Homo sapiens: one gene and its partner. The protein of the gene in region 2 interacts with the protein of the main gene of each other region in a pairwise test. Each region holds a gene or a part of one and is shown on either strand. Other genes may lie near its edges.

Region 1 (2,514 bases), on a different chromosome or scaffold from region 2:
TGGCATCCCACACACCAGTCTGATGCCACATCTGTTCTCTTACCAACCACTGGCACCTGCATCCCTTATGCCAACAGTGCCGTGCCACTATGTTCACCCATTTTCTGTAATTATGTGGCAAATACGTTCCCTTCATCTGGAACTCTGAAGCCACTTAAGATGCAACACAGATTCCCGGTGGGCTACTAAACAGACTGCCCAGTGTAGACTCCATAATGAGTGTGGTTTCCAACAATTTTTGCATGGATTCTGAAAAATCACTATGTATTGAAAATTTATGTTCATAAGTCATTTTTCATGAACACTGATAGTTCAGCAATAACTGATTTTCACAAAGTAGATGCAGGGTTTTCAGTCACTAAATGAATTCAACAAAATGTTTACTGTGCAATACAAAGGTGATGCACGCTAATATTCTCAGAGAAATTATAGGAAACTGAGTAGCTTGAATTTGGACCAAAAATGTCAGAAAAAAGGTATTCAAGTGGAAAAAAATCCAGTGAACTCTAATAGATGGTTTATTGGAAACGCTCATAGCATCTTTTGAAAAGAACTTGACAGGTTTTATTTTAATAAGACATAGTGAAGAGGAAATGGCTTAAAAGATATCATCAATCTTTTATTTAACTAAGCACTGCCCTTCATTTTGAAGGAAATGATACAATTTCAAATCGGAACTTCCTTCTCAAGAAGTGATATAAGAATGTAACATTGATTTAACATACAACCTTCAACAAAAATAAAGTTTATACAACTCACTGGGAAATAAAATGCATGTGGAATTTATCCTGTTTGTCAACATAATTCTTCATGAGTCACAAGTATTATAGCCAAGAACAAAACAACAAAAAGCTGAATCAGTTGATAGTTACTCTGATTTAAAAAACATTTCACAAATAAGATGTAGCTTTCCAAACAAATCCATTCGATGACCATTATCACAACTATATTTTATTCTAATTTATAAAACAAAAAATGGTTAGACAAGCACATGATATCAAGAGTCTTCAACACAGTGGATTCCATTTTATTAAGAAAAAAAATAGAAAACAAGTAGTCCTTAAATTGTCTTAGCTCTCCATAGCATACGTTATATAAAATTAAAGTTTTGCTTCCAAAAATATGTTTCCATGTGGTCGTGGTGTTGTCCAGTGCTATTAGGGCCAAAGCACCAAAGACATGAGAAGTTTAACCATCGACTTGTCATTTTTCATAAAAACTAAACATTTCCTTATAGGTCTGGAGTAAAATCTTCTAGGCATTTTAGTGCTAAAAGTCACTTTAAATTAAATGTGAAATAAAAGCTACAAAAAGTATGAGTTCTTTCAATACAAAAAGTTGTGTAGCTGAAGTTGTGGGCTCCTTTGACATACATAAGCAGTTTCAATAAAATATTTGCTCAGGTAAGAAAATAGAAATTTGTCTGCTTTCATTTAGCATACGTTCCAGTCGATGTCCTGCTTATCCCTGCCAGAACTTCTGAAGAACATTAGAATCGATATTTCTTTCCTTCAAAGAGCATCCGTAATTCACAGTACAAAACAGTTCTACAGTCTTATTCCTAAGGAGAAACAAAAATTATTAAATATGTTTATTTTTTCTAAAGTGTCAAATGTAGCCACTGCCAGGGCATTAAAAACTCACTTATCCACAACACTGCCGTCTTCAGGAAAGAACCAAGAGTTGATTCATTCCCCTTTCCTGGAGCTGTTACTAGTTGGTTGTTGCTTTAAGTGTAATAACCCTAAGAAAATTCCCAATAAAAATCACTGTTCTTAAGTGTCACATATTTCACACCTCTGGTACCCTGTAGAAACGCTTGTATTACATGGGAAAGCAGCATCTGAAAAGATCTATTTCCTATTCTAGTTCATTTCCAAGCCCTGTTATTGAAAACCTCTTCTCTAGAAGAGAGAGTCACTGCTCTCTCTTAACACAGTCGCTGCTATACTTCAGCGTGACTGACCATACATCATTTTCCATTCTGGGACAGAGGAAGAAGACGGGTGGGGGAGTTGATCTGGCTAGCCCAGAGCTGGACAGTGCCATTCTATTCTTCCCTCCCACTTGTCTACACGGTGGTTATTACTACTTGCTCTGCTGCCCAGGCTGGAGTGCAGTGGTGCGATCTCGGCTCACTGCAACCTCTGCTTCCCAGCTTCAAGCAATTCTTCTGCCTCAGGCTCCCAAGTAGCAGGCATTACAGGCGCCTGCCACCACGCCCAGCTAATTTTCTGTATTTGTGGTAGAGACAGGGTTTCGCCATGTTGGCCAGGCTGGTCTCGAACTCCTAACTTCAGGTGATCTACCTGCCTCAGCCTCCCAAAGTGCTGGGATTACAGGCATGAGCCACTGTGCCCGGCCTACCTTCTATTTTCACTACTGTGTTAAGCATGAAAGAAAATCCAACTGGGTTAGATACAGCAGGTTCTCCTAAATGTCTTAACCCATGTTTATCTTGTTCTGCTATTCCATGAGCAAAGAGAATAAACACAAAGCTGTGAGAGTATTAAA
Region 2 (3,500 bases):
AGGCAGAAGTTGCAGTGAGCCAAAATCGTGCCAGTGCACTCTAGCCTGGGTGACACAGTGAGACCCTGTTTCAAAACAAACAAACAAACAAACAAATAAACCAAAAGTATTTTGAAATAATTAGATTTATAGATAGCTGCAAATAAGGCCAGGTGCGGTGGCTCACACCTGTAATCCCAGCACTTTAGGGGGCCGAGGCGGGCTGATCACCTGAGGTCAGGAGCTCGAGACCAGCCTGGCCAACATGGTGAAACCTCATGTCTACTAAAAATACAAAACTTAGCTGGAACTGGTGATGGGCACCTGTAATCCCAGCTACTAGCAGGCTGAAGCAGGAGAATCACTTGAACCTGGGAGGCGGAGGCTGCAGCAAGCCGAGATCACGCCACTGCACTCCAGCCTGGGTGACAAAGTGAGACTCCTCAAAAAAAAAAAAAAAAAAGCTGGGCACAATATGGTGAAACCCTGTCTCTACTAAAAATACAAAAATTAGCTGGGCATGGTGGTGCATGCCTGTAGTCCCAGCTACTCGGGAGGCGGAGGCAGAAGAATAGCTTGAACCTGGGGGCGGAAGTGGCAGTGAGCCAAGATCATGCCACTGCACTCCAGCCGGGGTGACATAGCAAGACCCCATCTCAAAAAAAAAAAAAAAAAAAAAAGCTGGGCACAGTGGCTCATGCCTGTAATCCCAGCACTTTGGGAGGCCGAGGTGGATGGATCAGGAGGTCAGGACTTTGAGACCAGCCTGGCCAAGACGGTGAAATCCCGTCTCTACTAAAAATACAAAAATTAGCCAGGCACGGTGGCGGGTGCCTGTCATTGCAGCTACTCAGGAGACTGAGGCAGGAGAACTGCTCAAACCTGGGAGTCAGTGGTTGCAATGAGCCGAGATTGTGCCACTGCATTCTAGCCTGGGCAACAGAGCAAGACTCTGTCTTTAAAAAACAAACAAACAAACCAACAACAACAAAAAAAAACATACGAAATTTCTATGCACCTAGCCTTCTGCAGTGTTAACCTCTTGCATAATGATAGTATAGCACTGATATTAGAAAACTGACATTGGGGGCCAGGCATGATGGCTCACGCCTGTAAGCCCAGCACTTTGGGAGGCTGAGGCGGGTAGATCATCTGAGGTCAGGAGTTCGAGACCAACCTAGCCAACGTGGTGAAACCTCATCTCTACTAAAAATACAAAAATTAGCTGGGCATGGTGGCACTTGCCTGTAGTCCCAGCTACTTGGGAGGCTGAGGCAGGAGAATCACTTGAACCCAGGAGGCGGAGGTTGCAGTGAGCTGAGATTATGCCACTGCACTCCAGCCTGGGTAACAGAGTGAGACTCTGTCTCAAAAAAAAGGGAAAGAAAACTGACATTGGGCCAGGCAAGGTGGCTCAAGCCTATAATCCCAGCACTTTGGGAGGCTGAGGCAGGAGGATGGCTTGAGCTCAGGATTTTGAGACCAGCCTGGGCAACATAATGAGTGATGCCCCGACTCAAAAAAAAAAAAAAAAAAAAAAAAAATTAGCCAGGTGGTAAATGATCATAGTCCTAGCTTGGGGAGACTGAGGCTAGAAGATCACTTGAGCCCAGGAAGCAGAGGTTGCAGTGAGCTGAGACCATGCCACTGCACTCCAGCCTGGGTGACAGAGTGAGACCCTGTCTCGAAAAATAAATAATAAGGTCAAAAGCTTTATAGTTTTCCCTGAAGTCCTGAAGATTAGTGTGTACACAATGAGTAGTATTCAAACATGGAATGTTTTAACCAGTCATCAGGTTTTCAACCCTGTGGTAGAGTAGGTTATAATTACAGTTACCTCCTTAAGCAAAAGGAGCTTACTCTCTTAACACAATATTAAATGGAGACTAAATTATTTAATTTGCAGATAAGTTTAGTATTTTATAAATAAGGTCCTACCTTGCAGCAGTCTTACCTCTTCAATGTGGATACTTCCTTTATCTCTCTTTGTTTTTGAGACAGAGTTTTGCTCGTCACCCAGGCTGGAGTGCAGTGGCACAATCTTGGCTCACAGCAACCTCCGTCTTCCGGGTTCAAGTGATTCTCCTGCCTCTGCCTCCCGAGTAGGCATGTGCACCTACAGGGATTACAGGCATGTGCCACCATGCCCAACTAATTTTGTATTTTTAATAGGTTTCTCCATGTTGGCTGGGCTGGTCTCGAACTCCCAGCCTCAGGTGATCTGCCCACCTCAGCCTCCCAAAGTGCTGAGATTACAGGCATAAGCCACTGCACCTGGCCTTCCTCTATCTCTTTATCATTATCTAACAAGGAAATGCTACACAAATATTTCAGTTTTGTTTTATAACCTGGAAGCTTTCCTAACTAGAGTTCACAACACAGGATAAAGGATTACTACACCTTGAAGTAGTTTGTCAAGCTCTTTGGAGCCAGTAGTAATCTGTATGATCTCTGACCGCCTTTGGTGGAATTCAGTTGCAGTGGTGAAACCCATTGGAACTAATTTAGCTGCCTCAGCCTGGGAAAAATAAGAAATATTAAATCAACAAAATAATATTCCTTACCACAGTGATCTTGATGGCAAAAAAATATATATAAAGAAAAAAGAAATATTAGTAAAACAAGGTGTGCAATGGGAAGAGAAAATATCAAATAAAATTACCAGGATGATTTCTCTTTAGAAAGTCATAAAAAAGGATAATCTAATTCAGAGATTCCATGAAGATCAATTTTTAAATTGCCAATTCAAGTTAATATATTAATATAGTTTTAAAAACTATTATAGATCCGGCCGGGTGCGATGGCTCACGCCTGTAATCCCAGCACTTTGGAAGGCCAAGGCAGGCGGATCACAACGTCAGGAGATCGAGACCATCCTGGCTAACATGGTGAAACCCCATCTCTACTAAAAAAATACAAAAAATTAGTCGGGCGTGGTGGCGGGTGCCTGAAGTCCCAGCTACTTGGTAGGCTGAGGCAGGAGAAAGGCGTGAACCCGGGAGGCGGAGCTTGCAGTGAGCCGAGATCGCGCCACTGTACTCCAGCCTGGGGGACAGAGCGAGACTCTGTCTCAAAAAACAAAACAAAACAAAACAAAAAACTATTAGAGATCCGTACATATGTGTTTTGCCCAATTTATGACAAAAATGACAATACAGTACACCTTCATTTCCTGCTCCATCAACCGCAGACTGTATCCCTTAACTTCCTACTTTGTAAAAATGAGGACATTTGCCCTTCAATCTTTTCTCTCTCCATGGCTACTTCCCCACCTCTATCAGCTGTACCTTTTCTTTCATATTGTCTGGCTGAGAACATTCACATTCTATTTTGTAATTACAGATAAGTGTTCTGTAATAGCACTATGGGTTGATTCTAAAATTGAAAAGTAAGTGCATTCACAAATATGCAAAAATAAAGCAACACACTCCTAAATAAGCAACAAGTCAAAGAAGAAATGACAAGGGAAATCAGAAAATGTTTTTGCAATGAATGAAAACGAAGATATACCAAAACGTATG

What was found. The genes of interacting proteins can lie anywhere in the genome.
Region 1: the proteins of RAD51 (region 2) and LRATD2 interact in binary tests that used the Homo sapiens proteins (3 or more experiments, as listed by UniProt).

The regions. Positions count from the first base shown.
Region 1 is NC_000008.11:126,551,943-126,554,456, forward strand, and holds the end of LRATD2 (protein LRATD2), read right to left. Parts: 3' UTR 501-2,514; downstream 1-500.
Region 2 is NC_000015.10:40,705,174-40,708,673, reverse strand, and holds part of RAD51 (DNA repair protein RAD51 homolog 1), read right to left. Parts: intron 2,498-3,500; coding exon 2,380-2,497; intron 1-2,379.